Regions from separate parts of the Homo sapiens genome. Here region 1 is linked to region 2. Evidence: fine-mapped expression QTL. A gene starts in region 2. The other region holds a variant in brackets. All regions are shown on one strand. Distances are between the middles of the regions. Region 1 overlaps BAALC (BAALC binder of MAP3K1 and KLF4). Region 2 holds the start of BAALC (BAALC binder of MAP3K1 and KLF4).

What was found. PIP is the estimated chance that this variant, and not a neighbour inherited with it, causes the effect. A credible set is the group of variants that fine-mapping cannot tell apart.
Region 1: its variant is the best candidate, but not a certain one, in a credible set for the expression of BAALC in nasal epithelium (TOPMed, PIP 0.50).

Annotation. Positions count from the first base shown.
Region 1 is chr8:103,213,438-103,221,771 of GRCh38, forward strand. The region is part of intron 2 of BAALC (BAALC binder of MAP3K1 and KLF4); the gene reads left to right. Among named protein-coding and RNA genes, the nearest start is that of BAALC-AS1, 45 kb to the left of the region's middle. The variant CCA/C (reference allele first, on the strand shown) is at 4,928.
Region 2 is chr8:103,136,130-103,144,463 of GRCh38, forward strand. BAALC (BAALC binder of MAP3K1 and KLF4) reads left to right here and starts at 4,596. Exons shown (of 3, transcript NM_024812.3): 1 at 4,596-4,928. The coding sequence starts at 4,769. It overlaps LINC01181 (long intergenic non-protein coding RNA 1181), which reads left to right. Exons shown (of 6, transcript NR_145429.1): 4 at 224-409; 5 at 3,077-3,239; 6 at 3,744-4,226. BAALC-AS2 (BAALC antisense RNA 2) reads right to left here and starts at 5,213. Exons shown (of 2, transcript NR_027071.1): 1 at 5,125-5,213. RefSeq lists a silencer at 4,632-4,821.

The sequences.
Region 1 (8,334 bases), 77 kb after region 2:
TGGGCAGAGGAAGGAAAGAGAAGACCAGAGTGGTTGGAAACAAGCCTCGCATTTTACTCAGGCCCTCCAACCAGGTGGACATTGGAAGGGCCCCCAAGGGTGGCTCTCATAGCAGAATGTGGTGACAGCATCATCCCCAGACTGTTGGAAGAGGCAGGTCAGTGATGTCCCAGGACGTGGCGGGTATCCTTTCTTTTCTCCCAGAGCTATTGTTGGGAAGATCCTCTTATGGGTACAGGAGGGGCAGCCCAGAATGAGCGCTCTTAGTAGGCAGGGCTCAGGCATCTGCAGTCTCTTCCTCTTCCACCCAGTTCCTCCTTCTGACTTCCTTATCTTCCCTATGCCCCACCCCCTTCAAAATCCACTGCTTACCCTAGGCTCCATACCCATTTTCTCCTATCTCTTCTGTCAAAATTATACTGAACCAGGTTCATTCTGTCTGTGCACAGCAAACCAATCACTGTGACAATGGGTTTTGCAAAAGAGAAAGTTTATTCATGAGGCAGCCAAGTGAGGAGGCAGAAGAACAGATCCCAAATCTGCCTCCACAAAGATAGGGTTTAGGGCTATCTATGAGATAAAGAAGCCGGGTAATCTAAGGCATGAGGAAAGATGATTGGCAGTGGGGGAAAGTGAGATAATCAGTGGTCTGTGCTTGCATAGTCATGGTTCATGGCTCTTCACAGGATTCATGTTCAGAAAATGGCTGTGTTTGCATGATCTTCAGGAAGAGTTTTGGCCTTCTGACTTCAAAAGGTCACCTCTTGGGCATTTCTACAAACCCAGTTGAAGGGTCAGTGATCTCAACTGGCTTTAACTGGACAAGAGCTAAGCCCAAGTTCCTGAAAAACAACTTTAAGCAACTGTTACAGTGGTGATCTATATGTCAGATATGTAGTCTGTAACAAAGCTAGTGGATTGGTTAGCTATGGGACTTTCAGCTATATGGGTTTTAAGATTAACTAGAAGTGAGTGATTAAAAGCAAGCAATGCAGGTTAAGTTTGATAGGCTTAATCAGGTTAGTCCCCAGTTCCAAAAACTTACTGGTCCTGTCCCCTCGGGCCAATGCCACCTGTTTTCTGAGAGTACAACTCATTATCTAATGATGGAATTCTTGCTCATATCAGTGAGTTGCCTCTCTAAGTTTTGGTCAGAAAACCTGTTGCAAATTCATCTCTAAAGCTCACTAACTAAAGGCCTTTCAGAAATGACTTAATCTCTCAGAATCTCACGTTCATTATCCACACAATGGAAATAATACAAAATGAGTGAACAGATGAGCCTCCTCTTATAAACTAGGATATAGATAAGAATGGCAGTAAGGATTAACAGGGGATAGTTAGGCACACAGCACCATAATCCACTTAAATGAAACACTAATGGTGGCCCTGCAGACACTGGAGAAGGTAATGAGGGGTGTAGACTTCAGGGTTGTGGTGTCCTTAATAGAGTTCTGTATTGTCTACTTTGCCTGTGCATTAGGTGGCCTTCTAGAGACCTAATCATCATTGCCATCTCTCAAGACAGTCTGGACCCACAGAACTACGTTCAAAAGCTTGATGACTGCTCTACCACAGGCCCAGATATTTGTCTTCTAGTCTCCTTCCCACACTTGTGCCCTTACCCTCTGAGCCAGGATAAGCCGTGGTCAAGAGGAAGCAGCTTTGCCTGGTGGATGGCATGATCCATACACTTGTTTCCCCACCTCATTTCCTGCCCCCCCATCCATCACTTTAAAATTATGTTTTGCAGTTTACAAAGTGCTTTTAAGTCTACTGGCTCCTTAAGTTCCCCTAAGAGCATTGTGAAGTAAGCATTATCCCCATTTTATAGACAAGGAAACTGAGGTTCATTTGATTGAGTTACATGAATAAGGCCATATAAGTGTTGTAGAAGGATATTGGTAGCTTTAAATCAGAAAAGGTTTCTATTAAGAAGATAGAACATAGCTTCAAGTACATTTTAAAAATGAATAGTGTATTAGTCAGTTGTTGCCTCAATAATGCTGCATAACAAAACACAGCAACATTCAGTTGCTTGAGACAACACCCTCCCGCCACCCCCACCACTGCCACCATGGTCAGCTGTAACTTAAAAAGGCTCAGTCTGACTTTTCCAGGGCTGGCTCAGTCTGTTCCATATATATTATTCTGGAAACCAGGCCAAGAAAGCAGCAGCTTTCTGGGGTATATTCTTATGACTATGGCAGAAACCCAAGGGGGCAAAACCAAACTACTTGAACGCATTTCGTGTCTCTGCTCACATCATACTGACTAATATCCCATTGGCCAAAGCAAGTCAAATGGACAAGCCCAACTTTAAGCAGGGAAACATACTCCGTCCAAAGTGGAGAGAGAGCAAAGAATTAGGAGCAATAATGCAGGCTACCACATACCACATACATACACAAAGAAATGCAACTCATAACTTCAATGAATTCTTATAAGGTGGCACATCCATGTAACCATCATGCAGATGAAGACATAGAACATTATCACCAGCCCAGAAATCCACAATGTCACCATTCTTCTCACTCCTAGTATTATAGATCAGTTTGGTTTGAGACTTATAAATAGAATCATACAAGTGTGAGCTTTTTCATGTCTGGCTTCTTTTGCTCAACATTATCCTTGTGAAAATCACCCATATTGTTCTGAGTTGCAATAATTTTCTCATTTTCATCGTTATGTATATTTCCTTATATGAATACACTGCAATTTACCCATTTTACTTGATAAACATTTGGGTTGTTTCCAGTTTGGGGCTATTGTGAACAATACAGCTTTTAATGTTTGTGTGCATGGTTTGGTGGACAGCACTTCTTTTGGGAATATACCTAGGAGTGGAATTGTTGGGTCACAGGACAGGGGTATATTTGACTTTCATAGACATTGACAAATAGTTTTCCAAAGTGGTTATGCTGCTTTATACTCTAACTAGCAGTGGTTGAGTTCCAGTTATGGAACAAAAGAATTAAAAATCAGTAAGTTGTGCTTAGTCTGTCTTCCTTGTGGTAGCAACTACTTATTAATTAATTAATTAATTTATGTATTTATCTATTTATTTATAGATGGGGTCTCACTCTATCACCCAGGCTGGAGTGCAGTGGTTCGGTCACTGCCCTCTGCAGCCTCTAATGCCTGGGCTCAAGCACAGCCTCCCAACTAACTGGGACCATAGGCATGCACCACCATGCCCAGCCAATTTGTTAATTATTTGCAGAGAGGAGATCTCACTATGTTGCCCAGGCTGGTCTCAAACTCCTGAGCTCAAGCAATCCTTCTGCCTCACCCTACCAAAGTGCTAGGATTATAGGCGTGAGCCATTGCACCCGGCCACTACCAAGTATTTATTCATATGTGGTCTAGGTATGACATAGGGTGCAAAGCACTTTGTTATGTTATCTCTTAATCCTCACACTAACTCTATAATGTTGACATTGTTGTCTCCAATTTACAGATGGGAATTGAGACTCAGATATAGCTAGGGAAAGCATGCCCCCATGCCGCACATACACACACACCCCACACACTTTGGGAGCTCATGGGGCTTTAAAATGGGGCGGGCAGAGTCAGCCCCCGTAGGGCTTCAGCAGCAGTGGAAACTGTCACAGAGGAGTGATGACCACACACACCTGCCCAACGCAGCACCCCTGGGCAGATGATGCATATCAATGAGCAGCCTGTGCAGCTTTTGTTTTCATAATTAAATGAACATGGCTGTGTTGTAACTGTTTTCAAAATAAGATCAGGGAGCTGATAACTTTAGTTTTAACGGTTTATATTTAAAAGATAATCAGTGGTCTTTACATCCTGCGACCTCACCAGTCACTGGCCATTCTGAGTCCCTCAAAGGCCAACGCAAAGGTTTTCTGTCTAAGATGTTTAGAAGCTAAGTTTACCTGTGATTGATGCTTCTGTCAGCAGAGCTACCTCATACCAACACTCAGGCAGGCTCTCAACTGCCTACTATTTGCCCAAAGAAAATACTTTTCTTCCTATTCCCTCCTGGGCCTTTGATATACTGTTTTTTTCCTAGTGTGTCTCTTAGACTCTGGGCCTAAGCTTTGTGCATTTTCAGTATCTGGCTCAGTCAGTATCCACTTGCCTCTTCCAGTCTTCCATTGCACCCCTATATGAGCTACTAGCATTTCACCACGCTCCCCTTAGGCACCATCAGGCCACCTGGTTGGTGGTTCTTCGGCATTTTTTTTTAAAGCTTTCCTTCTCTAGAAGATCCCTTTCATGAAGCATGTGTCCTCATCCACAGGCCTACTGCAGTGCTGCCATTCAGATTTACAAAACAAATTTGTATGTGAAAGGCAATCCTTGCGAGGCCTGGAAAATTTTTTAATCAGTTCCTATAACTACTCTTAAGATTCATTCATCAAATGTTCATTGAGTGCTGTCTAGGTGCCAGGCACTGTTCCAGTGCCAAGGATCCAGGGGTAGAAAAGACAGACATGGCTTTTGCTCTGAAGCAGCTGCTAGTTTTAATGGAGGTGGGTTGGGAGCCAAATAATATAGAATAAATAAAGCATTTATAGACTCTGAATGGTGCTATGAAGGAAGTAGAAGGTCACTAGTCAGGGGTAGCAGCTACTCTATTTAATGCAGATGCCACCTCACGTTTAAACTGCTTTCCAAAGGGTGATGGGGCAACTAATGTTGCTTATGGCTGTGAGCAACAGCACCTTGTGTTTGGAGCCCTTCTCCACTTCATGTCCCATCAAACAAACCATATCTTCCTTTTTGTCAATTCCCTCCAATCCCCCCGCCTTATGCCTGGTGTTAATAGGTGTTAACTGGCAAGAAGATTGTGGCAAAAATGATCTTTCATAAATTGGAACTGACTGTCTCAGTGGGGAGCTCTTTCTCTTTCTCTATTGCACCTTGATTTCCCCAGTCATTTGGGGCCTTACTGACT[CCA/C]GAGTGTCTGATAAATCATTGGCTTGGTCTCCTTCATCCTACTCCCTACCTGAGCTCAACAAACAACACGAGAGGCAGCGCTGTAGTTGCTTGTCTTCTCCCACTAATTAGTTGTTCAGGAACTTTGGGCTGCCTCCAAACATTTACTCTCTAACCTGAATGTGCCATTTCCTTAGGCTTAGGACTCTTATTCCCCCCCACCCCTTAAAATACCTCCTCAAGTATTCAGCTACAGTAAAAATGTATATGTGGCCATAGCTCAAGTAGAAAAGGCTCTGACATGTGGCTGGCCTTCCAGGGAACCCTCCTGTCTTCAGAAGCTGCATATTTTCAAGTTGCTTTATTATTCTTGACAAAGTGACTGGACCGTGCTAAAGGAACTAGCATGGGGACTGATTCTCAGCTAAGGAGTTTTCTCCCGCTCCTCCTCCTGTCCCCTCCCCCAGTGTCTGGTCAACATCATTGGCAAGGCCTGGCCCAGTCTGGGAAAGACAGGTGAAGGTCCACAGAGATAGGAGACCTGATCAAGACAGGAGGTTAGGACCAGCCCAGGATTTCTCCTGGATAACACTAATATGAGACATATCAAGGGAGAGTTTGGAAAGTAAATATGAGTCTCTCCCAGAAAAACAAAAACAGGACATTAAAAGGAGGGAGCGAACAACAGAAACCTCTGGGAAAACCAGAGAGGGGAAGCTATTAGAAGGGCACTTTGGTGTCCTTTCTAGTGCAAGCCTGGGGAAAAAGGAAGGAATTTAGCAATACAGAGATGTGCACCTACCTACTGGCTGCTACCTCTTGTAGAGATTTGTAAGACTCGGTATTCATGTAAGGGTCTGCAGTCAAACCAGTTCAACTGGAAGGCTCTCAGGGCAGACACTGCCTTATTTTTCTTTATATTCTTCCCTTGACTCCTGAGCCTACTTTAGGGTTATGAACCTAACAGGTACTCACTACCTACGTGTTGATTAACTGAGACAGCCTAGTCATCACTCAGATTAGAAAAGGTTCCCATAGCTTCAACCCCACCCATCCCAGCTCTGCACCACTATCCTGTGATGACTGTTCTGTGGTTGCCCAGTTGCTTTTCTAAAGCAGGTTCTGCTGCCTTCCTAATGTCTGATCTTCTATCTGAAGTTCAAGTTGAAAAGCAACAACTCCTTTTGGCACTCGATACAAACTCCCAGGGTGAGTAAGTCTAAGTGTAGATGGGGAAGGGGGCTGCGGTCTGCACAGAATGTGCTCCAGGCTTGGAGGAATCTTAAGAGTTTTACCTGCAGCATAGTCTGACCCCTGCGTTCTGAGGCTAGCAGCTGGCCCTTGGTGGAGTTGCTAAGATCAAATATCCCCTGACTGACCTTGCATTAATGCCGTACAAATTCACAAAGCAGCAGCAAATACATTCACAGAATTTGAGAACAATTAGGGTGTGTTATTGTGTATCTTCCTTTCATGAGACCTGTCTGAAAAGAAGTCAAACATCTGGAGTTGCAGCTGCCAAAGCTCTCGTCTTTAATCTTTTGGGAAGGAAGAGAGGATAAAACTAATATTTTGACGTGCCTACAACGTGCCAGACACACTATGACATCATTTTTAACCCTTACAACTCTAAAAGGTAAGCAACATCATTTCCTACCTGGGAAAACAGAGGCTCAGAAACTAGATATCTGGTCAACATGGCCCAAGGAGTCATGATTTGGCTGTGTTCAAATTCAAACCCAGGTCTGTCTCCATCTAAGCCCCAAGTTCTTCCTTCCCATTATCTGAAACTTAATGGCGGAGAATTTAGAGTGAGCTTTGGCAGAGTTGTGAGAGGTGGGATATGAAACCTGGGGCCACCATCTTTAGTTTGACTCATCACCCATATTGACATTGGCCTTGAGTTAATTGCATTTGCCTGAGTGGTTTCAGCTGCCTCATTGGGAAAGCGAATACAATAACATTCCCACCTGTCTCTCAGGGATGGGGCAAGGAATGATTAATCATGGATGTAACTGAAATCTTGTAGGAAAGTTCTGGGACACTGAGGCAGGGCAATGCACACAGTTTCTGTTCCCAGGGATTTTTCTTTTCTTTTCTTTCTGAAGATTTGTCTTCACACATGTGTTCATGGTCAAATTATTTACTGAGTGTCTATTATGCGACAGGCACTAAATTAGAGTCTGGGCAATACTATAAATGAATGAAATAGACTAGGTTCCTACTGTCTTGAAGTTTACAATATGAGGAGGAAGCAAAAAAGAAGTTAAAAAATAAATGCATAATTTAAACTGTGGTTAAAGGCCAGGAAGGAAGTAAAGAACATAGGGAGAGAGAATAACAGAGCCCTATGCTTCTATATGCCTAGAAAATCCCTGCAACATTCCATAAGAAAATATTAGCCATAATTATCTCTGGGGAAGGCACTAGAAGCCCTTCTCTACTCTTTGAATTTCTTTTTGCCATAATTATGTCTTCCTTTTATAATTAAAAATACTACTTATACAGAAAAATTGGTGTCTCACACATCATAATCTCAGAAGCCATGTTTTTCTTTGTTGTCTGCAAAGAACTATGAAAAGGTTTGTATAATCCCATGTTAGGTACAGATATATTTGTGGAGTTCAAGCAAAGCTGAGAACATCTCTATTTCCATTTGGGGGGAAAGTGAGAAAAGGCTGAACAAAGGTATCTGCAGTCTTGAATCCAGGTCTCCAGGAGCAGCCAAGCTGTCCCAACCTCCACAGGAAATGGGCTGATTATTGACATCTGAACCCCAAGATAAACAAGTCCATCTGGGTCAGAGACTGCCAAGAGGTTATCACGGTCAATCTGGTTACCCTTGAGAAATGGCAGGCTACTTTTAATTAAAGAGGCAGTATCAAGAAGACTAAAATCTATGATTCATGGGGTACTAAAGCTGCAGAAATTAAAATGAGGTAAGGAAAGAGTTGAAAAGCTGTAAAACTAGGTGAGAAGCCAGAGGTGGCCCATTAACAAGAGTCAATGGTGATAAAACTCACAAAACAAGAATGTTAGAAGTAGAGGAAGGATTGGCACAGCTGCATGAGAAAAAGGTGCTAATTAGGCTCCTCTCATTATGGAATTGGGGGCCATACTTTTTTTTTTTTAAGCCAGTAATTGCAATAGAAACACATTTTCTTTTCCTGTCATTAAAAAGGTATGGGGGGTGATGTTAAAAAAGGTTTGGCTGGCTGGAAACTACATCAGAGGGGAAAATACGTTGTATAAAGCATCACAGGCACTGAGGGACAAAATGGTGTGATTGTTTCTTGTGTTTATATTGCTCTTCTCAGCGGAGGGCAAAACAACTCACTTCTCCAAACTTCTAGATAAAATATCTGGCATTGTGATTCTTTTTCTCATCTTCTTTCTCTCTCTTGCTTGGGCTTGAAATCTAAGGTT
Region 2 (8,334 bases):
TTTCTAACCTCTTAAACCAAATAAAAAACTCACTTATCTTCTTGCTGTTGTAATATTTGCTTTCCTTTCTTGTTTATACTCTGTAATGATGTTTACCCGATCTGTCCACATCACCTGGATTCCAGGTGTACCATTCATGCCCTGGGGAAAGCAGTCATTCTTCAAGGCAACAGATGCAAGAATGAGCTCATGTCAAATGATATTTTCTGATTTTTTTCTCCAGATGTGGGGAACGAAATTGGATCTTGTGCTTTTGGGTGCTAACTTTGAGCCCTCTTCCTTTACATCTAAATGACAATTTGTGGATCAATGAGGATGTGTCAACTAGCCAAGATCGAGGACCTGGAGGGGTGCTCTGTGGAAACTGCTTTAAAATCCTTCAGAGGGTGGGCACGGAGCTCTGGTTCTGGTATGTTCACTGAATCTGTAGCAGTGGGGAAACTTGCTGAGATTTGGCATTCAAGACCAAAGAGATTTACCTAGGATCTGTACCCTGTTGGCCAGAATTATTGCTACTGTTGTTCTTCAATTATGCTACTTTTTCACTTGGAAAGAGATGGAAACTTGTAAGGCAGTGAATCTATCTTTACTCCTTTTCAGATGGCTGATTCTAAAGGCAGGTTTAGGTTCCTGCTAACCCTTCTGTTCTGTCCTGATTGTCCGCCTTACTGAAGGTCTGTTTTCTACAGCTCACAATAGTCGGGTAGAGTCCAGTGATGCCAAGCCACAGAAATGAGACCTTGGAGGGAGAAGCACTACAGGCCTTTGCTTCAGTTTCCATAGAAATGAGCCAGAGGTGGTACCAGTCACAGGGGTTCTTAAAGCCAGAGAGAATTTATTTTGAGAATCCCATCATATAGCAAATACCACTCTGCAGTAGTTTTTACAGGTGTAATTTATTTCATTGCTCTGGATGGCTTTGGCTCAGGCTTTCCAATGCCCTGTTGCAGCATTTCTCCTTAGGAGAATTCTTTTTTTGTTGCTTTCAAACTTGATGGAAAAAGATAACCAATTCATGCCAGTCAAGCTACAGATTCTGAACAGAGGGTTTAAGATAATGTATTACATTTTACATATTTACATTTAATTTATGACATTTATTCCTGAAGGTTTAGGAGAAAATTCAATCCCAACTAAAGAGCTGTAATTAAAAGAGCACGGAGCCAGCAGCCACAGGCCCCCAGCTCTGGCTGAAACTTCAGCTCTGCCAGAGATAACATTTCCTGTGTGACCTTGGGCAATTTTACAGCTTTCTGAGCTACGATTTCCTAGTTGGTAAAATAAAAGGACTGGATTGGCTGCTCTTTAACTTTTTCTGGCTTCTGAATTTCTCTGAATCAATGGTGTTACGTAATGCCAAGAAAGAGATTCCATGAAAAAATCTAACTGCTCTGTCGATGATGATTACTTAGAAATGGGGGTAAAAAAATTTATTTGCAGGAAGGTTGTTAGCAGTAACATCATAACGGAAGGAAAAAGAAAGGAAAGAAAAGAAAAAAACCTACCTATTTACCAAACTTCTGCAGTGTGCTAAGCAAATTCACAAACATTATCTCATGTGAAAAGACATAATAATTTCAGGGATTTCCCTCTTAAGGAAGAGAGATGACATTGTTGCTTGTTGCCCCAAAAGTGTTGTGATAGCAACATTCATGGAGTGTTTCTATGTGCCAGGCACTCTTTGAGGCCCTTTACACATACTGACACAATTTATTATTCCAATTTACAGACGATGCAGTTGAGGCATAAAGAGGTTAAGTAGCTTGCCCAAGACCATCCACTTAAGTAGCAGAGCCAAACTTTAAACTCAGAGAGTCAGGCTCTTGAAATTGCACTGTTAACTGTATCCCCACCTTGTCTTTTGCTATTCATTCATTAGGCAAACATTTGATGAGCACTGACTCTATGAAGGCATTAAGTTAATCCCTTTTGAAGATTCCAAGCATGTCACCATATCTTTGTCTTTAAGAAGCTTAAACTATACACAATAGATGATCAGAAATGTGTGTGAAATGAGTGACCACACTCAACCTTAGCCAGGCAGTACTTGATAACCATCTCCTGTATTCTGGAAATGTTCATAATTCCATTCAAGTAAGTAGACAGGGCCTGGCAAGAGGGGTCCCTGCTCTGGGCTCCTGCCCCAGAGGTCCCACTCTGGTTCTCCAGCCCTGGTCCTCTCTATGGCCAAGGAATCCAGGGATCACAGAATGCACGTACCTGGAGCCTGAGTCTCAGCCCCTTCTAACCTCCCTGTTGGGTAGTTGAGACCTTGCAACTCTCTTCTCCAAACCCACTGAGCCTACTTCCAGGGCTTGTACTGGAAGCAAACCCCATGAGGGCAGACCACATCCCCCAGGCACATGCTCCTCAGCCAGAGGGATGGCCAAGGGCAGCTATTTGTGGGAGGGGAGTATGGACAGACCTTAGACCCATGGGCCCACAAGGACCCGTGTGTAGCAGGACTGAACTGAGGATAGAAAGAGGAGTGGGTGGGTCAATTCCACCCACAATCCCACTGCCATGTTCAGTGCAGAACTCCAAAGACTGAGAGAACTCTACATTAGAACCTGGCCTTTTAAGTTTTTATGAAGATAACTTGTCAAGGTATGAGGACAGCCCATGTTTCAATTAAACTTGCTCACTTGGTTTATAGCTTTTACAATTTAGACATATGGGCATGTGGGTTTCTATTTGGCCCCAGGATACCCCTCCACTTCACCTCACGTTTACTCTGTTTCCTGTGCTCACCAAGCTCTAGCTCTTTCAGTTTCTTTCGTTTTCTAGAACTCCCCCAGGACGGTCTAACTCAGACACTCTTTCTGGTCTGTCTGCTCTTTGGGTGGTGACATCACGAAGTGGCTGGTTATGAAAGGAGCACTGTGCCGTAGAACTGAGGAAAGCACAGGCTCTGCTAGAGATGTTAAGTATTCTCTCTCCCTGAAAGCTGGTTCTTCTGAAATCAAAATATTCAGGGGGGAAGGAAAAGAGGCACAGGGCATCTGAATTCCAAAGGACTAGGGAAGCCACCACTTCCCGGATAACTGCACTCCCTCCACCTTACACCTAAAACAAGGTTGAAGAGTCCTGTCAAGGCCATCTCAAAAGGAGAAGCAAAGCCTGCAGAGGAGGCCAGCCTGAGTCCTGGGGTGCGAACGGGTGCTGCGCTCAGCATGAGGAGGAGGAGACCCTGGCCACAGTTCCATGAATCTTTGCTCCCTTCCACATTATGGATTCTGGTGAGTGCCTGCCAGAGGAATGTCTGACAGCTCTACCCTCAACTGGATCATCTTTAGCCCAAATTACAATAATTTAAGTGAATCAAATTACTATAAAAAGATACTTCATTATTAATTCACTGGACATTTACTGAGGGCCTACTCTGTGCCAGGCAATGCTCTGAACTTGCCCTACCTATTGGATGCTACGTGCTAAATGTTATAGACAATGTACTCTCGTACATTCTATAAATTATATAGGATATAATGAGTACTATATTCTCTATGCTTTACATGCTATATTAAACATCACACCCTATAGTCTACATACAATGGATAATATACAAAATATATTATATATGTATTATGTCTACTAGAACAGTCTTTTGCCACAATAGGAATTTAGTAAATATACATTGAATGAATGAATGAATGAATATGATACTTAATACCATATTCTAGCAGAGCTTGGTCATTGAAGAGTTATTCTTCCAAACCCTTCCCTTTCCTACCCCCCTCTTGAAGGCTAAGAAGATTTTCATCTTTCACCACCTGTTCTGGATTCTTGGAACAGGTAAATTCATTGGCCTACGCAAGTCTGAGCTCTAGGTCTGAACCCGCATGGACCTGAGGGTGCACCGAGAAAAGAAAGGCTGACAACTGGATCCCGGGAATGTCAAGGCCACCCTGGGCTTGAAGGGACCGGCCATGCCTCCAAGCCTTGCCCAGAGAGGGGGTTCAGGATGCTGCGTGGTTCCAGGTGATCTATTGCTTTCTCGAGTTTAAAGTTCAGAGGATCATGAAGTACCACAGCTGGAAGGGGTGTAAGTGACACTGCCTAGCCTAACTCTCTTAAAAATCATAGCCCTACTCCTGCCTCCCCAAATCAGATACGACAGGCATAGGCTCTGACTGTTCCTTAAGTCTTAGTGGCAATACTCCCTGACCAGTTTTGCGGGGTTGCTCCCAGTTCCATTGCTTTTGTAACAGGTGGCCAGAAAGCCTGGGGTCCCGTGATAAGAGTTTCAGTTCTTTCCAGGATGGATGGAAAGAAGGAAGGAAGGATGGATGGATGGATGAATGAATGAGCGGGTGAGCGGATGGATGGATGGATGGATGGATGGATGGATAGATGGGCCAGAGACTGGGAACGGTAATGCCGGCCAGACGGGTCCGAGCGCCTCGGGAGCCCCAGCCCTCCTCCGGCTGCGGGGCCGCTGCTCCTGCTCCCGGGCCGTCACGGAGCCCTGAGGGAGGGGGCGGGCGAGCGGGGGCCTTGGGGCGGCCAGGGCGCTGGGAGGGAGGACTGGGCGGTGGGGACCGGAGGGGAGGGAGGGCCTTGGAGGCGGAGAGGAGGGACGGGCTGGGAGAGGGCCCGGACTAGGGGCGGCGGGCACCGCAGGAGCTCCGCGCGGCTGCAGCGCGGGCGGGAGCGGGGACGCGATGTCGCCGCCGCCGCCTCCTTGCGGGCCGGGGCTGCGCCTCCGGGGCTGAGCCGCCGCCAGAGCCGACAGCCGAGCAGCCGCTGGGCGCTCCCGCGGCGCAGGAGGATGGGCTGCGGCGGGAGCCGGGCGGATGCCATCGAGCCCCGCTACTACGAGAGCTGGACCCGGGAGACAGAATCCACCTGGCTCACCTACACCGACTCGGACGCGCCGCCCAGCGCCGCCGCCCCGGACAGCGGCCCCGAAGCGGGCGGCCTGCACTCGGGTAAGTGGCCGGGCCCCTGCAGACCCTCGCCCGCCCGCTACCCCGGGCGCCTTGGCCCGGGCACTGAGAGAGGAGCCGGTTCCCTGAGGAATTGATGGCGCGGCGGGGGTGGCTGGGAGGAAGCAGAGGCAGGACCTGCCCACTGATCAGTGGACAGATGCAAGCCCAGGGAGTGGGGTCGACCAGAGCCCCTTACCGAAGGCTGCGCCGATGCCCCAGCTTCCAGCAGCCCAATGCTCTTTGGCCTTGTCCAAAGCTTGCTCGCTGGTCGGGAGACCGGTGGGTGGGAGGACAGCCCACCTCCTCCGCACACATATCCCTCAGCCACCCACCCCCTGATCCGCCCAGGGCCGCCTCCGCCCCGCTTTGGCCCATCTGCCATCCCCTGGCCACCTGCGTACCCAGCCGGGTGACTTCTCATCCATTGGCCACCTGGTGCCCCTCTCTCCCTGGATTTATACACAAGGCGCCTGCCTGGGATCGCCTGGGTGGAGTCTTTCTTGTCGCTTCCCCTTTTCTCCCTCTAGGAAATGAGCCCACTCGCGGGCTTCAAAGACCAGAATCCCAGTTTAGGTCAAAATAAATGCACCCCGCCCCATCGCTAGTTCTGCACTTTAGGTTACTTTTGGAGCAGTTGTTCCATAGCAAAGGACTTCTCTCCCTACCCTATGGTGTCCCAATGCTTTGCAGGAGGCAGGGCACACATGTGGATTTTGACTATAAATTAAATACTCTTGCCTAGGTCATTCCTCATCCAGCAGAAATCTGATAAAAGGAGATGCAAAGAATTGTCTGGTCAGGTCATAAGTCAGGATTTTATTTTATTTTATTTTTTTATTTTTTAGCAGAACAAGTAATTATAGCGCAGAGATGCAAACTGTTGCCACAGACTGACCTTTAATCATAAACATATTGGTGACATTAAAAGGAAAAAATCTCACTACTTATTACATGGATGTTGTCCAAAGCAAGGTCAATATTTGGATAAAAATGTTTTAAGTGTTTCTTCACCCACTGATATTATTGGCATTTTTGAATAATGAAATCTAAAATGGAAAATAGGGTTAATTTGAAGCATAATGTATAACATATGGAAGAGGAAGGAAATGCGAATTACTTTTACAAGGTTAAGAATCTTAAATCCATGCCTACTAAATAGAGCTGTCACTTTAATCAAGAATAGGTTTCTCCATTTTTAAGGACCAAAGCTGGCTCCTTTTCCACATTAACTTTGTGACTTGGTTTTATTTTAAAATTGAGGACTGTCTGTGAAAGCTGTACAATACATTACACTATATTTGTCTCCAGTTTTTCTGACTCACAGTGGCAATCAGAATGGTTATTTTGTATTGCCAATGCTTTTAGCAAGTCACCAAATGGTGTGTTGGCTGAATTCAGTGTCAGCATGAGGATAGATATGAGCCTTTTAGAGGGACCTGGTAAATGTTAGATGTGACAGGGTTTCCCAAGGAGGTATGGTACTTCTCAGCAGAGAGTCAAAGGCCAGAGATGTACTCCGAAGAAATAAGGGTGAAAAGATCTAGCATGAAAAAAATAATAATAAAAAACAACCAAAACCCCGTAAGTACAGCTTTAAGAAATGGTTGCCGTGGTGACTGGGAGTATATGGTGTGTGTGTGTATGTGCGTATATGCATATGTATGGGTATGAAAGAGTTATTATGGGATGGCTCTATATGTACATACATGTTCCTCACAACTTTCCTGACACTCCTTGATTTATTACTCTGCCATACTAATTCATATCCCATCCATCATGAGATCTGGTCACTGCAACAGGTGGGGCCTGGGACAGACACACTCATTCATGGTACCCTGCCAAACATGGGCCAGCCCTGCCAGAGAGGTGGTCCTGAAGGCCTGCATCCTCCAGAGGAGAAGCTCCACTTCAGCCCCAGGACAGCACCCTGAAATTGGCAAGACGCTTGTATGGGCAGGGTCATTTTAATTCCCTGGGAATTTCTGTTAGCCTCAGGGGAGAGGGATATTTCTGAAGACCAAGATTAAATCAAGGCCTTCTTTGGGGGTGTACTGGCATTCCCTAGGGCCTTTGGGAATGGCTTGACTTCTGTGGGTTTTTCAGACTGGGAGCTGGTCATCTTTAGTCAGAATGGGTCATCCGTGAAAGCTACAGATCTCCTGGGTTTCAGCCACCCTGGGAGACTGGCCAGGATTCTGTATTCCTTTCATCTTCTCTGCCCCCTCACTTCCACCTCACCCACCCCCTGCCAGTGCTTTACTCATGATTTTACTCCCAAGCTGCTGGGGGACACCTAACAGCCCCCAGTGGCTGCGTTGTGATAGGAGGCCAGAATGCCACTTTTTCCTGTTTACAGAAGTTGTTTTCTGATGGGAGAGGTGGGTAGGAGTAAATGAAAGAGCCAGTAGATTCAGGAGAGTCCAGACTGTGAAATCAACAAAAATGGCTTCACTACTAGAATTCTAGAGCTGGAGAAGGTCTCTGGAAGTCAGCCACGTGAGTCAAATGAGACTCTCAGGGGAATCATCCCCATCTGAACACTCCTTCAACCACTCACAGACTTTACCCTCAGCTCCCAAGAATCCCTTCTTTCTGGGACCTTAGTGATTCTCCTTTGGTGTCAAACTGAAGCCACCTTTTCTCCTGGCTACTTCAGGACTTTTGAGGGCTAGGGGAGAAGCTAATTCATCTTTGCATCTTCTGTGCTGAACACATCTGGGACTTGTAAAAGTTTTCAGAATGAATGGATGCTCTGTCTGAACCTGTCCTCCGTCCTGTCAGCTCTTCCTAGAGCCCCTTCTGCCTCTTCTTTGCAGTACTTGCTACTGAGGTTTTCCCACTTGAATCAATTTAGCCTGAATTCTTCCAACGGCCTTTCTGATCGCACAACTTCTCTTTAAAAAGTTCTCCCCAACTTTACCCTACTCCATTCAAACACCTGGCCCAACCCAACGATTCCATTTCTTCTGTAGCCTCCCTGAACCCACAACCTCAACTCCACAAACATGTCTGCCCAAGAAAAGTCCCATTTAATCATATCTGCTTTTAAATCTCACTTGTGTTTCTCTTAGCCCAATCCAGATTGAGGGTGTGTCACATGACAGGTGTTCAGCAAATATTTGTTGAATGAATTCTGAATTTCACTGCAGGGAGGGGGCATGTTTTTCTCCCAGTTCCACAAAGAAGAAGGTTTCTTGCATCTTCTTACTCAAAAAATGATCCTGAGCCTGTGGTTCCTGTTTTTGGAGATCATCTCCACTACTCAATGGAATTGAATTAATTTTTTAGATTTGACTGTTACGTAGGCTAGAATTTAAAAGCTAGCTGAAGCCAAGGTATGTGATATCCATTGCTTTCCTGTGTCACCAAAGTCTGTCCCTCTGTTACAGAAGGAAATTAAATTGGT